Homo sapiens: one gene and its partners. The protein of the gene in region 1 interacts with the protein of each later gene in a pairwise test. Each region holds a gene or a part of one and is shown on either strand. Other genes may lie near its edges.

Region 1 (3,500 bases):
GTCCCAAGTGCAACACTCCTGGATGGCCCTGGCACAGCCACACAGGAGGCAAGCCAGCCCAGCGCAGCTTCCCAGGGCCGAACAGACGGCACTGGCCCCATGATGCCCTCCCCTCTTCTCCCCATTTCCAGGCCTCTTCTCCCATCCCATCCCTCCAGGGTCAAACACCAAAGGCCCTTCTATTATGCCCGTTGATTAAAGGCTCCTTTCATCCCTCCCCAGCGTTCTTTCTTCTGAGGCTGTTTAATTGTACAGATGCAAATGCCTGGCCTCTCAGGAGTGCCACATTCGGAAACAACTGCTGTCCTCTTGGGCCAGGCCCACCCCTAAACCCCTTCCGAGGAAATTAAGCAAGGGCCTCTTCCTTCCCTGTCCCCAGCCAAGGGAGACCCCTCAGAGGGATTAAACTTGCCCCTGCAAGCTGTCATTTCCAGCCCATAAAGGCCACTCACAGAGGGAAGGTCACAGTCCCCTGGGGGGATGGGAGAACCTTTCAAGCATTTAATTGTGTCTCAGGGTTATGGTTGGGCTTTGTCTTTTCCCTTTAAAAAAAAAAAAATTAACTCCCCTTGGTTAGAGCTCAATTTTTTCCCTCTTTAATAAAGGCAAGCCAAATACTTTCGTAGGAGATAAGGCTAAATACAGTGAACAGCTGGGTTTAGTCAAGGTTCTTTGTTTTTAGCATTCCTGACCCAGCTAATGCAGTGGGGTGAACAACGGCATGGCTCTGACTAGGCAGCACTGAAGACACGTCATGTCAAGGGGTCAAAATTCTCGGGGGAGCGTGAGAGGAGACAGTGAGAAAATGGGGAGGGGCTCTGTGCACAGGAGACTCAGGACAGTGGGGGGAAAAGTCACTTCTCCACATAAGAGGCTCAAATCCCAACGCCACCCTCCGTCAGACCCCTTTGGCCCCAGCTCCGACCCCTCCAGGGTTTACCAAGTTGGGCTTTCACAGCATGTCTGAGCAAACACGCAGCGACCTTTTACATAATTGCAACCTCCTCCAGAGAGGAGAGAGGCCACATTCTCTCAGCCCCACCCCCAGGACTTCAAACACACTGCACTGCCCTCATTTTCTCCAAGAAACAGGCTTTTCCACTGCAACATGCTTCATGTGGCAAACTTTGCTTTCTTCTGACATCTGGCACCAACAGCGTCTGGCGCGTCTGAAGGGACTGTTTGCTTTTTGAACCCCTGCCATGTTGAGATTACTCAACGCATCCCAGGTCCCCCCCACCTCCCACCCCTGCTCCACGGCCCCAACCTCACTGGGTCTTTTTTATTTTTTTGAAGGGGGGATGTATTTGTACAAATTGAGATGTTGAAGCACCAGCCCTGCTGGGAGGGTGAGGCGTGACACCCTGTGTCCCTGTCCTACCCCAGGAGGACACTGAGTCTAGCTCAGGCCCTGCAGAGATAAGGCAGCTGGGAGGGCCTTCCCACAGCCTGATCCACTCAGGAAAGAACTGGAGAGGATCGGAGAGTTGACCATTTGTGCAAGTCTTTGTGCATTAAAGGGGAGGCCAGGGCTTCAAAGCCAGGCTTATTAACTGTGCCTCAGGGAGAAAAAAAAAAAATCAGAGCCAGATGTGGCCACAGCAGCTGAAGGAGGCACTTTCCCCACAAGCCTATGCCAGCGCCACATGGCTCTTCTCCAAGGTCACCTGCAGTTCCACTCGAAGTCCAGCCGAGACAAAGCCAAGATCAAAATGAATCCCCAGAGGGACACACTTGTGTCATTAGTTTCACCTTGTGTCTTTTCAAGATAAAAGCAGCAGCAGCAGCAGCCAGGCCTGTTCCCCCACCCCTTTGATACCTTTTCACAATTGTCTCTGCCCAGGTATAAAAGGGACTATCCAGACCCAGCAACACGCCCTGCTGGCCAGTTACCTCCAGGGGCTCAGTCCAACCTCCATCCCCTCCCCACTCCAAAGAGAATCACTTTGAGCCCCCGCCCAAACTAACTCCCAGATGAAGGTGGCTGGTAAAACTATACAAGGCCTGCTCTAGAGGGGAGGGTGTCTCAGAGCCCTGCAGGTGGACTCATCCCCGTCCAGGAGCCCATGCCCACCTGGCAGGTTACCAAGTGCTATTCAGAGTTTTCCACTCACACCCCTGGCCCTGGTGGCGGCAACGGGTTCACACCTGGGAATAGACTGTGGTCCTGGCACAGGGACAACAGCACACAGCTGAGGAGTTGGAACTCTGTCTTGGGTGTAGACCCCAGAGTGAGCACCTCCTTAAACTAGGGTGCCCCTGTCTCACCCTTGTCCCAGCCTGGAGCCCTAAACCTGGGAAACCTGGGACAGAACTGGAGCAGAATCCACACATTCTCTTGGGCTGCAGGCCATGGAGAGGGGCAAGGGAGGACTCCAGATGAACTGAGGCAGAGTCATCACCTGCTCCTTACGAGGGAAATGATCAAGAGAAGGAATGGCCTAGGGCTGGCCCTCATCCTCCTCAGCTCTTGAACCCTCTCAAGGGCCCTAAAAAGTCAGCATGGACCTTCTCAAGGGCACCTCCGTCCACTCTGCAGACAAGGTAAGGAGACCAGGAAGTTCCCTTCCTGAAGCCCCTGCAGGGGAGAAGGCAGCGGGGCCCAGGCCTGGACAGGAGGAGTAGACTGCCCTATTCACCCTGTGCCCACCCGCAGGTCCAGCCCCTTCTTTGTTATGGACAAAGGCGCATCTCTGCTTCTAATGGCCCATAAAATCCAGGGAGGCTGTTCAGGTGGAAAGGCAGGGTAAGAAAAACACGGGGGACTTTTCCTAGGCATGGTTCCTGACTATTTGGAGCCTTCAATGTGGGGGTCTCTCCTAAACTCAAGCCAGTAGGGCGGCGCTTCCAGACCCTCCCTCCTAATCAGTGTGCCTGTCCCTCTTTTTGCTCCCTGCTCCCCACTCGCCCACAAGCCCCTCAATTGCAGGTAAAGCCTCTGCAGTGTGGCCTGAGCCCCACTCTCCTGTCGGTGCAAGCAGCTGCTCCTTTTCTCTCCTCAGTCTGGTTCACCTGGTGGAAAGAGCCTGGCCAGGTCCCCCAGAGAACCCTCCACGCAGCCTCCCTCTTGCGGCTGCTGCTTCGTTATTGCTGCTAGCGGTGAGGGGAGAGAAGAAATGAGAAGGGAGCCTCCCCCAGCGCCTGCTGAGCCCCCTCCCACCCTGCCCCACCTAGGTCTGCTCAGCCAGGGGAGCTGCTCCAGGCTCTGGCTCTTGGTTCTGAGCAAACAAACTGAGAGCAGAAAAAAGCCACAGGACTCTTACCTATAATTTCCCTTTTTGCTGAGCTGCTCTTTAAAGTGGCCCAGGGTCAAGCTCTGAGCCTTCAGCATCCTCCGGTATGGAATTTCTTCCCCACAGAAAAAGTAAGTGACAACCAACTCACTGGCCTGGAGCGCGTGGACACCTGCCAGTTTCTTTGGCTCTTTGTGACTGAAAATAAGATGGAATGGAACAAGTTTAGCATTTTAAAGCAGACACACATCTAAAGCAAACACACAC
Region 2 (3,500 bases), on another chromosome or scaffold:
CAATAGTGAAGTAAGCAGATTTTACACTCACTATCACTGCATGGATAGAAAGAGCCATATACATTTTTGTTTTTATAAGTCATCTCAGATCACTGCAACATGGCACATTAGAACAGAGATTCAGAGACACAAAGTTAATAAATACATTTAACATTGCCAAGCATTTAAAAGATAAATGCACTCATGTAGCAAAAAAAAAAAAATCAGTTTGTAACTTTGACCTTTCTCAGGGATGTGAAGAATCATTTCAGGTGTCAGAAATCTCTGTAGCAAAGATTCCTATAAGAGAAAAAATCATGCTGATTAATATTTTTAATTCAACTTTTTCAACATGTGTAACAAATTTATTCTAGTAAGTGTATCACTTCAGCAAAACGTAAGATTTTTCTTCATTTCTATGAAGGAAAACAAAAAACAATATATTTTTTCACTCAGTTTTCACAAACTGGTACATTCATACCATGGAATACTATTCAACAATAAATAGGAATGAACTATTGATACTTACAGCAGCTTGGATGGATCTCACGGGCATTATGCTGAATGAGAAAAGTTAATCTGAAAAGGTTATCTCAAAACGACAGAATTATAGAGATGGCGAAGAAAGTAGTGTTTCCCAGGAGACAGGGAGATGAAGAAGGTCAGGGCTACAACTATAAATAGGCATAATGAGGGAGTGAATTCTTTGGTGCTGATGGAACAACTTCACATCTTGATCATAGTTGTGCTGTGTGTGGATTGTAAAAAATATATATATACACATACAAACAAATGAGTGCATCTAAAAACTAGTGAAATCTGAATAAGGCCTTTAGACTAGTTAATCACACTGTGCTAATGTCAATATCCCAGTTTGTAAGATACTCCATTATAGAAGCTGGGGTAAGGATATGTGGGACTGTCTGTGGTATTTTTGCAACTACTTGTGAGACTATAATCATTCTATTTTTATTTTTTAATTACTATTTTTTGGAGACAGAGTCTCACTCTGTCACCCAGGCTGAAGTGCAGTGACATGATCTCAGCTTACTGCAACCTCTGCCCCCAGGTTCAAGCAAATCTCATGCCTCAGCCGCCTGAGTAGCTGGGATTACAGACATGCGCCACCACGCCCAGCTAATGTTTGTATTTTTAGTAGAGATGGGGTTTTGCCACGTTGGCCAGGCTGGTCTCAAACTCCTGGCCTCAAATGATCCTCCCACCTCAGCCTCCTAAAGTTCTGGGATTATAGTCAGGAGCCACTGTGTATGGCCAAGACTATAATCATTAAAAAAAAGTACCTGTGGTACATCTATACTATGGAATACTACTCAGCAGTTAAAAGGAATATGTGACAACTACTAATACATGCAACAACCTGGATAAATCTGAAATATATTATGCTGGGTGAAAGTCAACCACTAGAGGCTGCATACTGTATGATTCCATTTACATGACAACCTGGGAAAGGCAAAACTAGAGAGGCAGGAAACAGAGCAGTGGTTAGAGGAAAGTAAATTCAATGTGATGTCTGTTGTCTAGATAATAGGTGTCAGTCAAAGGACACCATTTGAAACTGAGAGTAAAAGATTAAGTGAGAAAAAAGGTGATTAAGGGCATTGTTAATCATATTAATAGAAAGGTAACAACTAAAATAAAATAAACTTTCATAAAAGCCAAAAGAAATTTGTTAAAAAGCAAAGAAGACTGATCAAATGAAGAAATACAACAAATATCACATAGTACAGAAAGTAATTATAACTATTGATGTGACATAACAGTCATATCAATAATGTAAAAGATTTTAACTCATCTATTTTATTTATACTGTTCTATTCTATTTTTGAGACAGGGTCTCATTCTGTTGCCCAGGCTAGAATGCAGTGGCATGATTATGGCTTACTGAAGCCATGACCTTCCAGGCTCAGTTGATCCTCTCACCTCAGCCTACCAAGTAGCTAGAAATACAGGCACGTGCCACCATATCTGGCTAATTTTTTTTGTGTGTGTATTTTTTGTAGAGATGGGGTTTCACCATTGCCCAGGCTGGTCTGTAACTCCTAGGCTCAAGCGATCTGTCTGCCTCAGTCTCCCAAAGTGCTAGGATTACACGTGTGAGCAACCACGCCCAGTGTAATTCACCTATTTTTTAAAAAGATTTTCAAAATGGCAGGGTGTGGTGGCTCATGCCTGTAATCCTAGCACTTTGGGAGGCTGAGGCGAGTGGATTACCTGAGGTCAGGAGTTTGAGACCAGCCTGGTCAACATGGTGAAACCCTGTCTCTACTAAAAATACAAAAACTAGGCCAGGTGTGGTGGCTCATGCCTGTAATCCCAGCACCTTGGGAGGCCAAGGCAGGTGGATCACCTGAGGTCAGGAGTTCGAGACCACCCTGCCCAACATGGCAAACCCCGTCTCTACTGAAAAAAAAAAAAAATGAGCTGGATGTAGTGATGGACACCTGTAATCTCACCTACTCAGGGAGGCTGAGGCAGGAGAATCACTTGAACCTGGGAGGTGGAGGTTGCAGGGAGCTGAGATCCTGCCATTGCACTCCAGTCTGGGGGACAAGAGTGAAACTCTGACTTAAAAAAAAAAAAAAAAAAGGGGATCGTTCCAAGATGGTCGAATAGGAAGAGCTGCAGTCCACAGCTCCCAGCGTAAGCGACACAGAAGATGGGTGATTTCTGCATTTCCAAGTGAGGTACCAGGTTCATCTCACTGGGACTTGTTGGACAGTGGGTGCAGCCCACAGAGTGTGAGCCAAAGCAGGGCAGGGCATCGCCTCACCTGGGAAGCGCAAGGGGTCGGGGAATTCCCTTTCCTAGTGCTCGGGACACTCCCACTCTACTACTGTGCTTTTCCAGTGGTCTTTGCAAACAGCACACCAGGAGATTATATCCCATGCATGGCTCGGTGGGTCCCACACCCATGGACCCTGCTTACTGCTAGCACAGCAGTCCGAGATCGAACTGCGAGGTGGCAGCAAGGCTGGGAGAGGGGCATCCACCATTGCTGAGGCTTGATTTGGTAAACAAGGCAGCCTGGAAGCTCGAACCGGGTGGAGCCCACCACAGCTCAATGAGGTCTGCCTATCTCTGTAGACTTCACCTCTGGGGACAGGGCATAGCTGAACAAAAGGCAGCAGAAACTTCTGCAGACTTAAACGTCCCTGTCTGACAGCTTTGAAGAGAGCAGTGGTTCTCCCAGCATGGAGTTTGAGATCTGAGAACGGACAGACTGCCTCCTCAAGTGAGTCCCTGACCCCCTAGTAGCCTAACTCAGGGACACCTCCCAGTAGGGGCAAACTGACACCTCATACAGCCAGGTGCCCCTCTGAGATGAAGCTTCCAGAGGAAGGATCAGGCAGCAATATTTGCTGTTCTGCAGCCTCCGCTGGTGATACCGAGGCAAACAGGATCTGGAGTGGACCTCCAGCAAACTCCAACAGACCTGCAGCTGAGGGTCCTGACTGTTAGAAGGAAAACTAACAAACAGAAAGGAATAGCATCAACATCAA
Region 3 (3,500 bases), on another chromosome or scaffold:
CGGGTGTGGTGGTACCTGCCTATAGTCCCAGCCAATTGGTAGGCTGAGGCCAGAGAATAGCTTGTGCCAGGGAGGTAGAGGTTGCAGTGAGCCATGATCATGCCACTGCACTCCAGCCTGAGCAACAGAATGAGACCCTGTCTCAAAAAAAAAGAAGAATAAAAAAGATCCTTTCAGACAAGCAAATGCTGAGGGAATTTGTTTACCAGCAGACCTGCTGTACAAGAGCTCCTGAAAGAAGTACTAAATATGAAAAGAAGGCCGGGTGTGGTGGCTCATGCCTGTAATCCCAGCACTTTGGGAGGCTGAGGCAGGCGAATCACCTGAGGTGTGGAGTTCGACACCAGTCTGGCCAACATGGTGTAACTCCATATCTACTAAAAATACAAAAATTAGCCGGTCATGGTGGTGGGTACCTGTAATCCCAGCTACTCGGGAGGCTAAGGCAGGAGAATTGCTTGAGCCAGGGAGGCAGAGGTTGCAGTGAGCAGAGATCATGCCATTGCACTCCAGCCTGGGTGACAGGGCAAGACTCCATCTCAAAAAAAAAAAAAGGCCGGGTGCAGTGGCTCACGCCTGTAATCCCAGCACTTTGGGAGGCCAAGGCAGGTGGATCACGAGGTCAGGTCAGGAGATCGAGACCATCCTGGCTAACATGGTGAAACTCTGTCTCTACTAAAAATACCAAAAAAAAATTAGCTGGGCATGGTGGCATACGCCTGTAGTCCCAGCTACTCGGGAGGCTGAGGCAGGAGAATCACTTGAACCTGGGAGGCAGAGGTTGCAGTGAGCCAAGATCACGCCATGGCACTCCAGCCTGGGCTACCCAGTGAGACTTTGTCTCAAAAAAAAAAAAAAGAAAAAGGAAAGAAAAGGCCATTACTAGCCACTACAAAAACACATTTAAGTACACAGACAAGTAACACTATAAAGCAACCACACAAACAAGTCAGCATAATAAACAGCTAACAACACAATGACAGGATCAAATACATGCATATCAATACTAACCTTGAATGTAAATGGGCTAAATGCCCCAATTAAAAGGCATAGAGTGGCAAGAGCTGGATAAAGAAATAAGACCAAATGATATGCTCCCTTTAAGACACCATTCTTGGCTGGGTGCAGTGGCTCATGCCTGTAATATCCCAGCACTTTGGGAGGCCGAGGCGAGTGGATCACTTGAGGTCAGGAGTTCGAGACCAGCCTGGCCAACATGGTGAAACCTCGTCTCTACTAAAAATAGAAAACCGCCAGGCGTGGTGGCGCGTGCCTGTAATCCCAACTATTTGGGAGGCTGAGGCAGGAGAATTGCTTGAACCTGGGGGACAGAGGTTGCAGTGAGCCGAGATTGCGCCACTGCACTCCAGCCTGGGCAACACAGCAAGACTCTGTCTCAAAAGAAAAAAAAAAGACCCATCTCAGATGCAATAACACCCACAGACTCAAAATGAAGAAATGGAGAAAAATCTACCAAGCAAATAGAAAACAGACAAAAGCAGAGTTGCAATCTTAATTTCAGACAAAACAGACTTTAAGCCAACAAAGATCAAAAAAAGACAAAGAAGTGCATTGCATAATGGTAAGGTATTCAATTCAACAAGATCTAACTAACCTAAATAAATATGCAGCCAACAGCAGCACTCAGATTCATAAAGCAAGTTCTTAGAGACCTACAAAGAGACTTAGACTCCCACACAATAACAGTGGGAGATTTCAACACCCCACTGACAGTATTAGACAGATCACTGGGGCAGAAAATTATCAAAGATATCCAGGACCTTAACTCAGCACTGGATCAACTGGACCTGATAGATATCTACAGAACTCTCCACCCAAAAACGAGAGAATATATCTCATCTGTACATGGTACATACTCTAAAAACCACCACACAATTGGACATAAAATAATCCTCAGCAGATGCAAAAGAACCAAAAGCATACCAGCCACTCTCTCAGACCACAAATCAATAAAAATAGAATTCAAAACTAAGAAAATCACTCAAACCCATACAATTACATGGAAATTAAACAACCTGCTCCCAAATTACTTTTGGGTAAATAATGAAATTAAGGCAGAAGTCAAGAAATTATTTGAAACAAATAAGAACAAAGATACAACAGACCAGAATCTCTGGGACACGGCTAGGGCAGTGTTAAGAGAAATTTACAGCACTACATGCCCACATCAAAAAGTTAGAAAGATCTCAAATTAACAACCTAACATCACAACTAAAAGAACTCACGAAGCAAAAGCCTCCAACTCCAAAGCTAGCAGAAGACAAGAAATAACCAAAGTCACAGCTGAACTCTAGAAGACTGAGACACAAAAACACCATTCAAAACATCAAGTAAGCCAGGAGCTGGTGTTTTAAAAGAATGAATAAGATAGATAGGCTGCTAGCTAGACTATTAAGAAAAGAGAGAAAACCCAAATAAACACAATTAGAAATGACAAAGGGGATATTACCATTGACCCCACAGAACTACAAATAACCCTTAGAGACTATTATTAACACTTCTATGCACACTAACTAGAAAATCTAGAAGAAATGGATAATCTCCCGGACACATATACCCTTCCAAGATGGAACCAGGGAGAAACTGAATCCCTGAACAGACCAATAATGAGCTCCAAAATTGCATCAGTAATAAATAGCCTAACAACCAAAAAAAACCTGGACCAGACGGACTCACAGCTGAATTCTATCAGACGTACAAAGAAGAGCTGGTACCATTCCTACTGAAATGATTCCAAAAAAACGGAGGAGGAGGGACTCCTCCCCTACTCATTCTATGAGGCCAGCATCATCCTGATACCAAAACCTGGCAGAGATACAACAAAAAAAGAAAACTTCAGGCCAATATCCTTGATGAACATTGATGCAAAAATCCTCAACAAAATACTAGTAAACTGAATCCAGCAGTACATCAAAAAGCTAATCCGCCACAATCAAGAAGGCTTTTATCCCTGGGATGCAAGGTTGGTTCAATACATGCAAATCAATAAACATGATTCATCACATAAATAGAACTAAAGACAGAAACTACATGATCATCTCAATAGGTGCAGAAAAGGCTTTTGATAAAATTCAACATCTCTTCATGTTAAAAACTCTCAACAAACTGGAGTTTTTTGGTTTTGTTTTTTGTTTTTTTTTGAAACAGGGTCTTGCTCTGTCGCCCAGGCTGGAGTGCGGTGGCACAATCTGGACTCACTGCAACCTCTACCTCTGGGGCTCAAGTGATCCTCCCACCTCAGCCACCCGAGTAGCTGGGATTACAGGCGCGCATCACCACGCCCGGCTAATTTTCCTATTTTTAGTAGAGCGGGAGCTACCATGCCCAGCCAACTAACTAGGTTTTGAAGGAACATACCTAAAATAATAAGAGCCATCTATGACAAATCCATAGCCAACATCATACTGAATGGGCAAAAGCTGAAAGCGTTCCCCCTGAAAACTGGCACAAGACAAAGATGCCCTCTCTCACCACTCCTA
Region 4 (3,500 bases), on another chromosome or scaffold:
TTGCTCTGTGTTACAGAGCAATTTTTTCTTCTCTGACAAAACATCTCAAATGTGTCCCTTTGCAAAGTTAGTCATTATTCAAGTTTCCGTAAGACAATATACAAAATCTCATTCCAGAGGTAAGCAACTTCAAGTGTTCCTAACCAGAAAAGTTATTTTTCAATCACCCTAAAACTTTTACATAAGAATTGGGGTGTGTGTGTGTGTGTGTGTGTGTGTGTGTGTGTGTGTGTGTGTGTGTTGAGGGGAAAGATATGAAGAAAATAGGGATAAAGTTAAAATAACCAATTTGGGTTTCTACTCTCTTCCATGAGTTATTTCATAATCTGCATTAACCTTACAATTACCAAATAGTCAGGATGATGTTTTTAAAAATTCCAACTCCCTAATTCTGCCGCTATTTACGATACCAAATTCCAACTGACTGTGTTTGACCAAAATCAATGCTTGTGGATTAGAGTACCTAGGTGTGTCCACTCTAATTGAGTATGTGTGGGCTCATGACCTTTCTGTGCCTTCCCACTCATCATCATTAGCATATTATTTTAAACACTGTACTATTTAACAGCTACATTATGCATGAAAACAACATTTTTAGGCTAACCTCAACTTGTAACCACCATTTTAAACTTTCAGTTGTTTGCAAGTAGCTTTGGCAGCCTTCTTAGCTACTTTTCAGTTAAATGGTACTGTGCTATCGTCTAGACTAATGGTTTTCCAACTTAACTGTTTATTAGAATCAATTGCAAAATTTGTGAAAAATGCTCCTCCTGAGCCCCCACACACAGATATTTGGAGTTTGTAGGCCTGGAGTGAAGCATGATCTAGTTTCTCAGTTCTTTGAACATGCTATACGCCATCTCCCACAAGGCCTGTGCACATTCTAGTTTCTTTGCCTAGAAATTTCTACCTATCCTCACGTCCTCAATGAGTACTTATTTATTTATTTTTATTTATTTACTTTTTTTCTTTGAGACAGAGTCTCACTCTGTTGCCAGGCTGGAGTGCAGTGGCGCGATTTCGGCTCACTACAACCTCCAGCTCCCTAGTTCAAGCGATTCTCCTGCCTCAGCCTCTCGAGTAGCTGGGATTACAGGCATGTGCCACCATGCCCAGCTAATTTTTGTATTTTTAGTAGAGACGGGGTTTCATTGTGTTGGCCAGGATGGTCTCGATCTCCTGACCTCATGATCCACCCGCCTCGGCCTCCCAAAGTGCTGGGATTACAGCCGTGAGCCACCGCACCCGGCCCACAATGAGTATTTATTAATGCCTAGTCTTTATGATGCACTGTGCTAGGTGCGCAAAGATAAATAAGTCATGGCCTTTAGTCAAGGATCTCTAGGTAGAGAGGAAGAAGAAGACACATAAGCTAATTGTCATATAGTGTAAGTGCAAGAGCAGGAACAGGAAAATTTTTAGGCGAGCATGGGAGATGTTCACCCTGGGTAATTTTGACACAGATTGTGGAAGCAATGGTTCTGATTCTTCAGAAAGTGTTTTCTCTGCTCTTTTGGAGAAAATATAAACATCTGGCTGTGGTCTCCTTTTATAACCTATTTGGACCTCTTAGAGAATTTTAATAAGTCATTCAACCCATATCTGAAGATATATTCTTAGATTTTGCTTATGTACTTGATCAAAGATGTCTTTAATCATTGTATTTATTAGATGCTATTTGCTTTATTGGCACATTTGAGATGCTAAAATGTTTTGACTCTCTACTACAACATTTTCCAAAGTGTGTCTACTTTGGGATGCTTGAGATTTCACAAAGTTAAACAGTTTCTTTACTGCCAGAATTCTCTGACCTTTACTGTATACACAATGAAGATCTAAAATAGTGATGGGCATAGTTTCCATCATTTCCAAAACTTATTGACTGATTGGATCTATGAGAGACATTTTTTTTTTTTTTTTTTGAGACGGAGTTTCGCTCTCATTGCCCAGGCTGGAGTGCAATGGTGCGATCTCGGCTCACCACAACCTCCGCCCTCCGGGTTCAATCGATTCTCCTGCCTCAGCCTCCCAAGTAGCTGGGATTACAGGCATGTGCCACCACTCCCGGCTAATTTTGTATTTTTAGTAGAGACAGGATTTCTCCATGTTGGTCAGGCTGGTCTTGAACTCCCGACCTCAGGTGATCCGCCTGCGTCGGTCTCCCAAAGTGCTGGGATTACAGGCATGAACCACCACGCCTGGCCAAGGCTTTTTTTTTTTTTTTTTTACAGAACACCTTGAATATTTGGGAAATGTCTCTACAACCTAAGCTCCCAGGACTTCTTTTTCCTTTTGAGGCTGCACTTTCTCCTACAATAAACGCAGTACTTACCGGAGCAGTTGGGGGAATATTTAAAAATCTCTCTCGTGGGTAAAGTCACTTTCCCCTTGGCATCTGAAATGAAAGAAATGAAAACAGATTTCCCATTATGCGGCACCATGCCAAGTTCACATCTAAAGTATCCCCTTTGTTCTCCTACTCGCATCCTCCAGGCTCAGAGGTATCTCTCATTTATCACTTCTTTGACAACATTATGTGGGCTGGGAGAAAAACAAAGCTCATTCACAGGGCTATTCTGAGCTCAGAATCCATCTAGTCAACCTACTAATTTTATAGACAGGGAAATTGAAGCCTAGGGAGTTTCAGAATCCACCAAAAAATGTTACTCATCTAGTTGATGTGATTGTGAGATTAGTCATAAAGCAAGGGATGGACTTTGTGTCACTGACATCGCAGGACCAAAGTGGTACAGAAGCAAGCATCATATTGGTTAAGGAGCATTTATTACACCTCAGTTAATGAATTTTGTCTTTCTAGTTACAAGTGAGCTTCAGTGGTACCTTCTGAGAGGCTCCTGACTAGGACATCAGTATTCTGAAATGTCTTCAGACATCCATTTACATAGTCTTCCTTTATTTTTTGAGACAAAGTCTCACTCTGTTGCCCAGGCTGGAGTACAGTGGTGCGATCTCAGCTCACTGCAACTTCCACCTCCCAGGTTCAAGCGATTCTACTGCCTCAGTCTCCCATGTAGCTAGGATTACAGCCACGTGCCACCATGCATGGCCAATTTTTATATTTTTAGTAGAGACGGGGTTTCACTGTGTTGGCCAGACTGGTCTCGAACTTGTGACCTCAAGTGATCTGCCCACCTCACCCTCCCAAAGTGCTGGGATTGCAGACGTGAGCCACCGCGCCCGGCCCCTAGTCTTCCTTTGAACGGTCCGGTCACTCTCCCAGATAGTCTGTTTCATCTGTTTTAGCTTGATTTCTAGTTTCTCTGAGAGAGTAATAAACTGCAGCTTTGATATTTTCTGAAGGAGATGGTATTTTCTGAAGGAGACTAAATTTTCTGAAGGAGATGATAAGAAGACCAGAGAAATTCAAGGGAAAGAGGAATAAGCAGAGACAAAGCTTGACAGGTAGATTCATAGAGAAGCTAGAACCTAGACCAGACCTTGACAGGGAGGAGAGTTTACAGAAGCAGATGGAAGGGGAG
Region 5 (3,500 bases), on another chromosome or scaffold:
ACTAACTAAGGATGGAGTAACTCTTGTAAAATATATAGATGAAAATGTTTAATTCCGATTACCATATAGGTCAATTTAGAATTTTAAAAGTTGGAGTTTAGTGTTAATTATGTGTTTTTGACAGCTTTGACTTTAAAAGCATTTAAAAGAAAGGGGAGTCTTTAAGCATTTGTTAGGATGCTAGCATTCTAAGGAACCCCTGTTGAAAACAGACATAAGAAATTGTAGTCCTTGCTCTCAAAAGCTTATCCTTTAGTTGTAGAGGGAGGCTATGGGGAAAAAAAAATTAAAACAATAGCGTGATGACTGCAAGATTGTAAAATACAAATTGAATCATTTGTTCAGAGTGGCAAAGAGTAAAGGGGTGAGACTGATGGTTGGGAGAGGAAAGACTTCCTGCGGACAAGGTGTATTAGGACTGATGTTAAAGGAGGTGGTAACTTGAACTGGTAGAAAAGCATGAAAGGTCTAGGTGGAAGGAGTGTACCAAGGAACAATGATGGTGAGTTTTGCATGAGAGACAATAATCAAGTTGACAAATCTGAATTAAAGGGGCCTAAATAAGAACATAAGAACAGATGGAATTTGAGAAATAAGAGAAAGTTAGCTGATGGAGGGCAGAGGGGTTCTGTACAAGTTTGATTGAGATTCAGAAGAGATCTGGATTTATTGTTGGTTGCTGAATAAGACGTAAGATGATTTTTGCAGTTGAATTAGTGAATTATAGTAGAGAGATGCTAGAGCCTTTTTAGGGAGCTAGTAGGGTATGTTGTGAATCATGAGGGAATAAAGTAAAATGTGAAAGTGGGGTGAAAGGAACAGGTTTGAGAGACAGTGTGAATGAAGAACTGGCAGAACTTCATACTGGACTGAAGTGGAATATTTGTGAAGGAGTCAAGAGTTAAAAATAAATTCTGATGTTACTGGCCTGGAAGACTTGACTGCTAAGTTATATTGTTAATTGTAATGGGAAAATTGAGAAAGTGCTGAGGTGAGAGGGTAGGTGAGTTCACTTTCTTAAAATTTAATATACAATAAGTTCCCTTGAAATTCAGACAGCAGTTAGTTACTGGCAATGATATTTGACTTCCTAGTCTATTAATTGCACAGTTTCTAATTTTTCTACACCTAAAGATGTTGGATTTATATTCGGGAGCAGTAAACTAAGGGCTTTTATTTAAATGCTTCTCATCAAAGTCCTAATTTTTTTTTTTTTTATATACAGCTTCAAAAGCCTCACACTTGAAACCTGGTTATAATAGTTTCATGATGGCTTATTTCAGATCAATGAAAATACTTTTGGGACTAAACTGTGACTGTAACATTTTAGATATGTAGCCATTAATCTTTGATATATGCTTAAAACTTGTTTTTTATAAATAATGATTATTACTATTATTTTAAATGCAAAATTTATCTAAGAATAAAGTATTGAGAGCCTTCACTTTGTGAAGACTCCAGAAGAAATTAAAAGTTGATTTTATAACAAGTATTTTTTGCCCTTTTTGTTGAGTTTAGGCATTAATCCCAAATTTAAATCAGTATATTTGAAATACTACTTTTTACTTGCTATAGTGAAACCAATGTTTCATTTTTGTTCACTTCCAAGTTTACATGTAATTAAATAAATGTTTATAAAGTTTTTCTTTAGAATCACATGATATTTTACTCCATAGGGAAAGTAAGGGACTGTTTGTGGCACTTTTGGTTAAAATATTAGTAATCCTTTTGGTATATACAATTGGAGAAAATTTAGCTAGTTGTTTAGGTTTAATACTTAAATATAAGATTTAGAAATATGAAAATAAGTCTGTATCACTTAAGTTGTTTCCTCATATAAAACTTTTTTAGATCAAAATTTCTATTAGCAAAGAGAGAATAATAGTAGCTGCATATTATTCTGCAGTATTACGTCGTATGGTGATTAAAGCCAAAGAGTAGGTAGCAACTTAGAGTTTCCGTATTCCCCTGGGAAGTTTAATCTCTTTATGACATCTAAAAATTAGGTTATTAGAGTTTAGTCCATTTCTTGATAATCCTGTGTTAATGTGGAAAAGAGTTCATGTGTGAGACTGAAAACCAGAACTTTATTTTCAGTCATTTCCCAACCCGACTTCCCCAGAGTTGTTAAAACGTTTAAGATATTTAAGAATTGCATGCTTTCTTGTTGCATGCACCTGTAGAATGCTAATTGTGAAGTGACAGTAAGTCACAGGCAAAAGGAAAAACTTCAAGGGAACCCAGTGATTCACAAATCACCTTATGGCTGATTGGGAACTGCATTTAGAAAATGAGGTGACATCTTCTCATTTCACTGGCAAAGTTCAGCTGAAAATCAGTACTTGCACGCTTTACTGTGTAGCCCTTATATTAGAATTGAGTTGCAGGTGTGAGATAATATTTTGGAGAAACAGCAAGGCTGGGAAAGTCAGAGATTTTATTCCAGCAGCAGAGTCTAAAGAGTGGGAGAGCTCTATTTGTGTGTGCACTTTATGCATAGAGAAGGCTGTGAAACATGCATATGTTGACCCTATTGTCACAGTTCCATACTTTTAAATAAGACCCATGAAGTTGAGACAGGGTTGGAGATGACAGACAGGATGTGAGATTGTGGTGCTTCTTGTGATGCTCCACCCTATAATGGAGAATGGAGGGGCAGAACGCTTGTGTGGGTGAGACAAGAGTGTGTGTTGGTACTAACAGGACCAACCGGGTTCCCCGGATATTGTTCTTCTAAGAACATAATCACCATAAGTAAATTAATTTGTTGGAATGTTTATCATTTTCTAGCTGATTTTTTGTGTGTGTGTGTGGGGTGGTGGTGGTGGAAGGGGAGTTTTCCCCGATTTCAAGAATAAAAGCATTTTCATTGTTCAGAAGAAGAGCATTTTCATTAAAGCGGAGGTTGCACTCTTGGCATTTTATCTTGAGTTATACAAATCATCCTTGGTTATACAAATCAAATTGCTTTTGAAATTTGTTGAGTGTAATGTATAAATGTATATTTATATAAAAACCTATGTGAATAGAACAGCAAGGAAAAACTGAGTAGAGTTAAAGAAGTTTGTTTTCCCTGAGATTTTCTGCCTTTAAATTTATATAAAAAAGGAATATTCCATTTTACGTTATTGAGTTTTCTATTTTTTTAAATGAGCTAATACTCAGTACATAATGGACATTTTTAGTAAATTATTCCAATATACTTGTGTCTGTAATGCATTTGATGTGGTATAAGATTTAGAAACACAATTTAGTTCGGCTGGCACGGTGGCTCACGCCTGTAATCCCAGCACTTTGGGAGGCCGAGGCGGGTGGATCACGAGGTCAGGAGATCAAGACCATCCTGGCCAACGTGGGGAAACCCCGTCTCTACTAAAAATACAAAAATTAGCGGGGGCGTGGTGGTGTGCGTCTGTAGTCCCAGCTACTCAGGAGGCTGAGGCAGGAGAATCGTTTGAACCCATGAGGCGGAGATTGCAGTGAGCTGAGATCGTGCCACT
Region 6 (3,500 bases), on another chromosome or scaffold:
TAACACCCAGGGCACGATGCCAGGCACTGGGGAATGAGCCTGCACAGATGATGGACGGAGATGCATTCCTGGCTCTGTGGATGCTAACCTTCCTCCAGCCCTAACTCCTTCCCACCTACCCCCAGCCAAGGCTCTAAAGGCCCGAACTCTGGCCTCAGCAGCTGTCTCTGTGCAGTCCTGGTCCCCACCACCCCCTTATCCTGAGCTAACTCCAACATCTCTGGTGCCACTGGACTCCCTGTATGGACCTGAGCAACTACCTGGCAGCTTCTGCAACCCCAGGTGTCAGGCTGCCTTCCTGATTCAGTCAGGCCTTGCCTGCCTTGGCCCTCCCCTGTGTTAGGCGAGCTCCATCTCGGGGGGTTATGGGAACAACAGCAGGGGACATGGGGCCTCCAAAAACCAACATAAACTTGGCGGATGAGGGATCCCATAAAAGGCAGGAGGCTCCAGAGCCCCTGGCTTTGTGGGCCTGGGTCCCAGCAGCCCACCTGCTGGCCTACCTTGACATAGAGGATAGGGATGGTCAACTTGGCCTTGGTGAAGTGGCGGGCCACCCGGTACACTGTCTCGGGCACATATTCCAGCACCAGATTTAGGTAAAGCTCGTCTTTCTGCAGGGAGCAAAGGAGAGGTGTGAGGCACTGTGAGAAGAGTGAGGAGGGGGAAGGAAGGTATGCAGGGAGCAGTGGGGGAAAGGCAGGCAGGCAGGAAAATGGCTGGAGCAACCCACCACCACCACCTCGAGATCTCACCTTCTCGCCACTGGAGTAGAAAAAGTATCTCAGCCTCACAATATTGCAGTGGTCCAGCTTACGCATGATCTGCAGCTCTCGGTTCTTGAGGGCAAAGGGAGAGTCTCAGAATACAACCAACTCTCTCGGCTGCTCCTCCCTACTCACACTCACTCCCAACAACAGCCAGGCAGCTACTCCCTGTGTCCCAGCTCCAAGGTCCCCTGGAGTATCCCCCAATTCCTTGTCTCCAGACTATTCCCCTCCCACAGGAGCTGGAAGCCCACAGGTTAAACCCAGGCCACAGATGTGTTTTCTTCACCCCATTTTTTTTTTTTTTTGAGACAGAGTCTTGCTCTGTTGCCAGGCTGGCATGCAGTGGCTCAATATCGGCTCACTGCAACCTCTGCCTCCCTGGGTCAAGCAATTCTCCTGCCTCAGCCTTCCAAGTAGCTGGGATTACAGGCATGCACCACCACGCCCAGCTAATTTTTGTATTTTTAGTAGAGATGGGGTTTCACCACGTTAGCCAGGATGGTCTCGATCTCCTGACCTTGTGATCCACCTGCCTCAGCCTCCCTGACCTCATGATCCACAGGCCTCAGCCTCCCAAAGTGCTGGGATTACAGGCGTGAGGCACCGCGCCCAGCCACCCCACTTAAAAAAAAATTTTTTTTCAACTTATTGCTGACATGTAAAAGCCAAATGGCACCTTCTGATTTTTTTCTCCAAAATAAAGTTTTAAAAAGGATAGGCCAGGGCCAGGCGTGGTGGCTCACGCCTGTAATCCCAGCACTTTGGGAGGCTGAGGTGGGTGGATCACGAAGTCAGGAGATTGAGACCATCCTGGTTAACACGGTGAAACCCTGTCTCTACTAAAAATACAAAAAAAATTAGCCAAGCATGGTGGCAGGCACCTGTAGTCCCAGCTACTCGGGAGGCTGAGGCAGGAGAATGGCGTGAACCCAGGAGGCGGAGCTTGCAGTGAGCTGAGATCGCGCCACTGCACTCCAGCCTGGGCGACAGACTCTGTCTCAAAAAATAATAATAATAAATAAATAAATAAGATAAAATTTATTATTATTATTATTTTTAAAAGAACCTGGCTATGTTGGCCAGGTTGGTTTTGAACTCCTAGTCTCAGGCAATCCTCCTGCCTCGGGCTCTCCAAGTTCAAGGATTACAGGCATGAGCTACCATACCCAGCCTTAAAATAAAAATAAAATAAAAAACAGCTGGGCATGGTGGCTCACCCCTGTAATCCCAGCACTTTGGGAGGCCAAGGCAGGGAAATCACTTGAGGCCAGGAGTTCGAGACCAGCCTGGCCAACGTGGCAAAACCCCATCTCTACTAAAAATACAAAAAAATTAGCTGGGCATGGTGGCGCACGCCTGTGATTCCAACTACTCAGGTGGATGAGGTACAAGAATTGCTTGAACCCAGGAGGCAGAGGTTGCAGCGCTTGAACCCAGGAGGCAGAGGTTGCAGTGAGCCGACATCACACCACTGCACTCCAGCCTTAGTGACAGAACGAGATTCTGTCTTAAAAAAAAAAAAAAAAAAATAGAGACCATCCTGGCTAACTCGGTGAAACCCCGTCCCTACTAGAAATACAAAAAATTAGCCGAGAGTGGTGGCACACGCCTGTAGTCCCAGCTACTAGGGAGGCTGAGGCAGAAGAATCGCTTGAACCCGGCAGGCGGAGGTTGCAGTGACCCGAGATCACGCCACCACACTCCAGCCTGGGTGACAGCATGAGACTCCGTCTCAAAAAAAAAAAAAAAAAAAAAAAAAAGATTTCACATCTAAATCCAGTTTTCAGTTTGTCTTGAAAAATCAGGGCTAGGTATGCTGGCTCATGCCTGTAATACCAGCACTTTGGGAGGTCGAGGTGGGGGCGGATTACTTGAGGTCAGGAGTTCGAGACCAGCCTGGCCAACATGGCAAAACCCTGTCTCTACTAAAAATACAAAAAAAAAAAATTAGCCAGGCATAGTGGCCCATGCCTGCAATCCCAGCTACTCAGGTGGTTGAGGCACAAGAATCGCTTGAACCTGGGAGGCAGAGGTTGTAGCGGGCCAAGATCGTGCCACTGCACTCCAGCCTGGGTGACAGAGTAAGACTCCATCTCAAAAAAAAAAAATCAGGCATGGGCACATGAGGCTTGCCCCCCTACCTGGCACAAGCAACAACAGACAGGTAGTGGCCATCCAGCTCACTCTGGTCCCGTGGAAGCATCTGGGTCCTCGAACTCTATCTAGGATCCTGAGTCCCAGACTCCAGGCATTGGACTTTTCCCAGAATGCGGTCTCAGCATTCTTCCCCATTCTCTATTCCTCAGTGAGGCCTAGGAACTCCCTGCCCCTACATCCCTCTTACTTCTGGAACTCAACTCCAATCAAATTCTGACACCCTGGAGCTCCTCCTGCCCAAGGGCCCTCCCTGCCAAGACCGAGGCCCTGGTCTGGTTCCTTTCCAGTCTAGGCTCAGTTCTCCTACATCCAGACTAGTCTAAGCTCCAAATGCCAGGCCCTTAAACACCAATTATTCCTCAACTTCCACTTCCTCCATCTCCTTCTAGTTCCCTGAGCCTCTCCTAGCTCACAGGGCACCTCCATTCCATTCTGCGCTGGCCAAACACCTGGGAAGAGCGCGACCTTCAGAACCACCCGCGCTAGCCCTGCCAGGTCCCTTTCTCTCCTGGGAAGAAGTGTAACCAAATGGTTAAGGTAGAGGGTTTGGGAATCAGATTCCAGCCTTGACTG
Region 7 (3,500 bases), on another chromosome or scaffold:
AAATAAAGCCAAAATTTTCCCAGTATTTTTCTGGTAAGAAGTCTCAGTTATATGATTTATTGATAGTGCATATATTATAGAAGGTGTGTTAAGATTTCCTGAAAGATTTTATTTATTTAGACATATTCTTGGTCTTATTTCATCAGAGATTGAAAGTTTTTTAGAATGTGGTTTATTTTTTTTCTCTCAGAATACATCCTTTTAAATTAAGATGAAATTAAATTATTTTCTTGCCTGTTCAAAATGATTGTAGGAACACTCTGTGAAGAAAAAGAAGAAAAAAGACAAGCATTCAAAAAAAGCAAAGAAAGAAAAGAAAAAAAAGAGCAAGAAACAGAAATATGAAAAAAACAATGAGTCATCTGATAGCTCATCAGTAAGTATGTACTAAAATTAATCAAAGCAGCTATTTGAGAACATTTTATTTGAATGTGTAACTTATGGGAAGTTAAAATACAAGAAAACGTAAAAAATATATTACTAGTTATGATATGAAAATATCTGGGATACATCTACTTAGAGATGTCCAGAAAATATTGGAAATGTTGATCTTGAATTTCAGAGAAAGGCTAAGAGGATAGGGATATGATTTGGGAATTATTGCTAAGCACAGCACTGGATCTTGCCCAAGGCCTGCTGTAACAATTACCTGGCTACAGCTGGTGTTCACTCAAGGCCCTGGGGCTCTGCAATCAGCAGGTGATGAAGCCAGCCAGGCCTGCGTCTTTCCCTTCAGGGTGGCAAGTTCCCCCAGGCCTGAGGGTGGGTCCAGAGGTGCCATCAGGGACCCAGGTACTGGCGTCAAAAACCTTAGACTTGTACCTGGTGTTCTATTGAACTGTGGCTGAGCTGGCATTCAACCTATGAATGGCAGTCCTTCCCACTCTTCCCTTTTCACAGGCAGAGGGGCCTCACCCTGTAGCCACCACCATAGACCCACAGGTAGTACTGGCAGGCTACCACTGATGTTCCCTTAAGGCCCAAGAACTCTTCAGTCAGCTGCCCGGCCTGGGACTCACCCTTCAGGGCAGTGGGCACCCCCTGGGCCAGGGCAGATCCAGAAATGCTATCCAAGAGCCAAGGCGTGGGGCTGGAGACCCCAAGATCCCTCTTGGTGTTCTACCACCCTGTGGCTGAGCTGGTACCTAAGGCGCAAGACAGAGCCCCCTTTACTTTTCTCAAGCAGAAGGAGGCTCTCCCCATAGCCACCACAGCTGGGAATGTGCTGAGTCTCACCTGAATCCAGCAAGTCTCAGATACACAGTGAAGGCCACAGTGTAGTACCCGATTATTGGTGCTGGTTATTCAGGGCCTAAGGGCTCTTTAGTGGTTACCAGCTATGGCTGAGCTGGTATTCAAGATGCAAGATGGAGTCCTGTATTTACTCTTCTCTCTCCTCTCCTCAAGCAGAAGGACAGGGTCTCTTTTGGAGCTGCACATTGTGCAGCCTTGGGTTGGGGGAGAGGTGGTGTAAGCACTCCCTTAGCTGCACCAGTTGCCCCCCAACCACCTGTCCATTGGCTCTGAGGCAAGTTTAGCACTAGGAGTCACCAAGGAATTCCACATCCTTGCTAGTACTTGGTATTGTCAGTCTTAGTAATTTTTAGCTATTCTACTGTGTAATGTCTCGTGTGATATTTCTCTGAAGAACAAGGATGTAGAGCATCATTTTAAGTCCCCATAGGGCATTCCATGTCTTTGTGAAATCTGATTTATTAAATATTTTCTTTTTTGTTTTTCATCATTTTTTCTTAGTGCTTCTGGTATCCTAATTTTTGCGCACCTCAAGATTGTGATTTCTCCTATGTTTATGTTATTATTAAATTTTTTTGTTTTTTGTTTGTTTTTAGAGATGGAGCCTCACTATGTTGCACAGACTGGAGTGCAGTGGCACCATCATGGCTCATTGCAGCCTCAAACTCCTGGGCTCAAGCAATCCTGCTGCCTTAGCAGCCCAATTAGCTATGACTACAGATGTAGTACAGAAAAGTTGTTTTTGTAGACATGGAGTCTTACTATATTGTCGAGGCTGGTCTCGAACTCCTGGGCTCTAGTGATCTCCTGCCTCAGCCTTCCAAAGTGCTGGGATTACGGGTGTGAGCCACCATGCTTGGCCTCCTATTTTTTTTCCCTAGAAGTTTTATAGCTTTGGCTTTTTTGCTTATTTATAATCCATTAATAATTTTTATTTATGTTGTGTAGTGTCAGTTTATTTTTTTCCCACGTGGATTTCCAGTTTTTCTAGCATCATTTGTTGAAAAGGCTGAATTTTCCCTATTGGAAGGAATTTAGGGAGATAGATATGTTAAAATATTCTTTCAATCCATTATGCACTTGGTACATCTCTCTATCCATTTATGTCTTTGATTTTTCTCACAATGTTCTGAAATTTTTAGTGTAGAGATCTTACATGTCGTTTGTTATTTTTTTTCCATTTTGTTTTCTGGAAGTGCTATCGTGAGTGGAATTTTAAATTAAATGTGTTTACAGCTAGTATGTAATTATAGAAGTGACTTGAAACATTAGGATCAGAAAAAAAAGAAAAAAGTGAAAAAAAACCTGCTTTTGATATATTCACCTTGCCTCTTATCACCATGTTAAAATTACTAATACTAGTGTTAGTAGCTTTTTTAGTAGATTTCTTAGGATTTCTAGGTAAATGGTATGTCATGTGTGAAAAAGACTTTTACTTTTTTCTTTTCAGTCTCTGTGCCTGTTTTATTTGTTAATTGTTGTTGCCTTATTTCAGTAGCTAGGACTTAAAAATAGTGTTGAATGGAAGTGGTGAGAGTGGACATGATTGCCTTTTTCCTTATCTTAGGTGCAAAGCATTCAGGTTTTTACATTTAAGCATGATGTCTGCTGTGGGACTTTCATGTATGCCTTTTCAGATTAAGGAAATGACATTTTATTTCTAGTTTTCTGAGAGTTTGTATCTTGAATGAGTATTGAATTTGGTAAGTGCTTTTTTTGCATCTATAAGTGTTAAAATTTGCCAGTGAAACGGTTTGGTCCTGGAGTTTCTTTGTGGAATGGGTTTAACGACAGAGTTAATTCCTTTAATAGTTGTGTTAAATACTTTCTGTTTATTCTTGAGTTAGTTTTAGTAATTTCGGTTTTTCTGGGAATTTATTCCATAGAAATTGTCAAATTTATTGTCATAAAGTTATTTGTAATATTTCCTTTGTTCTTTTAATGTTTACGGAATCCATAGTGATACCCCTCTTTCATCCCTGATTTTGGTAATTTCTATTTTCTGTTTGTTTCCTCTGTCAGTCTGTCTTGAGGCTTATCAGTTTTATTAATCTTTCTTTATTGCCTTTTAGTTTCCTTGAATTTTCTCTGGTTGTGTGTTTTCTATTTCATTGATTTAAACTATATTTATTCTTTGCGAATACTTTGTGTTTAATTTGCTCTTCTTTTTCTAACTTTCTAAGATGAATGTATCGCCACTGATTTGAAATCTTTTCTAACGTGTATTTATTTTATAAAATTTTCTC

The links.
Region 2: the proteins of AXIN2 (region 1) and TSGA10 interact in binary tests that used the Homo sapiens proteins (3 or more experiments, as listed by UniProt).
Region 3: the proteins of AXIN2 (region 1) and AP1M1 interact in binary tests that used the Homo sapiens proteins (3 or more experiments, as listed by UniProt).
Region 4: the proteins of AXIN2 (region 1) and TXLNB interact in binary tests that used the Homo sapiens proteins (3 or more experiments, as listed by UniProt).
Region 5: the proteins of AXIN2 (region 1) and GSK3B interact in binary tests that used the Homo sapiens proteins (3 or more experiments, as listed by UniProt).
Region 6: the proteins of AXIN2 (region 1) and GSK3A interact in binary tests that used the Homo sapiens proteins (3 or more experiments, as listed by UniProt).
Region 7: the proteins of AXIN2 (region 1) and CWF19L2 interact in binary tests that used the Homo sapiens proteins (3 or more experiments, as listed by UniProt).

Annotation. Positions count from the first base shown.
Region 1 is NC_000017.11:65,530,649-65,534,148, forward strand, and holds part of AXIN2 (axin-2), read right to left. Parts: intron 3,432-3,500; coding exon 3,264-3,431; intron 1-3,263. UniProt on the Homo sapiens protein: Inhibitor of the Wnt signaling pathway. Down-regulates beta-catenin. Probably facilitate the phosphorylation of beta-catenin and APC by GSK3B.
Region 2 is NC_000002.12:98,997,943-99,001,442, forward strand, and holds part of TSGA10 (testis-specific gene 10 protein), read right to left. Parts: intron 280-3,500; coding exon 255-279; 3' UTR 1-254. UniProt on the Homo sapiens protein: Plays a role in spermatogenesis. When overexpressed, prevents nuclear localization of HIF1A.
Region 3 is NC_000019.10:16,211,411-16,214,910, reverse strand, and holds part of AP1M1 (AP-1 complex subunit mu-1), read right to left. Parts: intron 1-3,500. UniProt on the Homo sapiens protein: Subunit of clathrin-associated adaptor protein complex 1 that plays a role in protein sorting in the trans-Golgi network (TGN) and endosomes.
Region 4 is NC_000006.12:139,281,999-139,285,498, reverse strand, and holds part of TXLNB (beta-taxilin), read left to right. Parts: intron 1-2,332; exon of another isoform or gene 2,333-2,395; intron 2,396-3,500. UniProt on the Homo sapiens protein: Promotes motor nerve regeneration. May be involved in intracellular vesicle traffic.
Region 5 is NC_000003.12:120,087,948-120,091,447, reverse strand, and holds part of GSK3B (glycogen synthase kinase-3 beta), read left to right. Parts: intron 1-3,500. UniProt on the Homo sapiens protein: Constitutively active protein kinase that acts as a negative regulator in the hormonal control of glucose homeostasis, Wnt signaling and regulation of transcription factors and microtubules, by phosphorylating and inactivating glycogen synthase (GYS1 or GYS2), EIF2B, CTNNB1/beta-catenin, APC, AXIN1, DPYSL2/CRMP2, JUN, NFATC1/NFATC, MAPT/TAU and MACF1.
Region 6 is NC_000019.10:42,236,103-42,239,602, forward strand, and holds part of GSK3A (glycogen synthase kinase-3 alpha), read right to left. Parts: intron 840-3,500; coding exon 756-839; intron 615-755; coding exon 504-614; intron 1-503. UniProt on the Homo sapiens protein: Constitutively active protein kinase that acts as a negative regulator in the hormonal control of glucose homeostasis, Wnt signaling and regulation of transcription factors and microtubules, by phosphorylating and inactivating glycogen synthase (GYS1 or GYS2), CTNNB1/beta-catenin, APC and AXIN1.
Region 7 is NC_000011.10:107,451,326-107,454,825, reverse strand, and holds part of CWF19L2 (CWF19-like protein 2), read left to right. Parts: intron 1-253; coding exon 254-376; intron 377-3,500.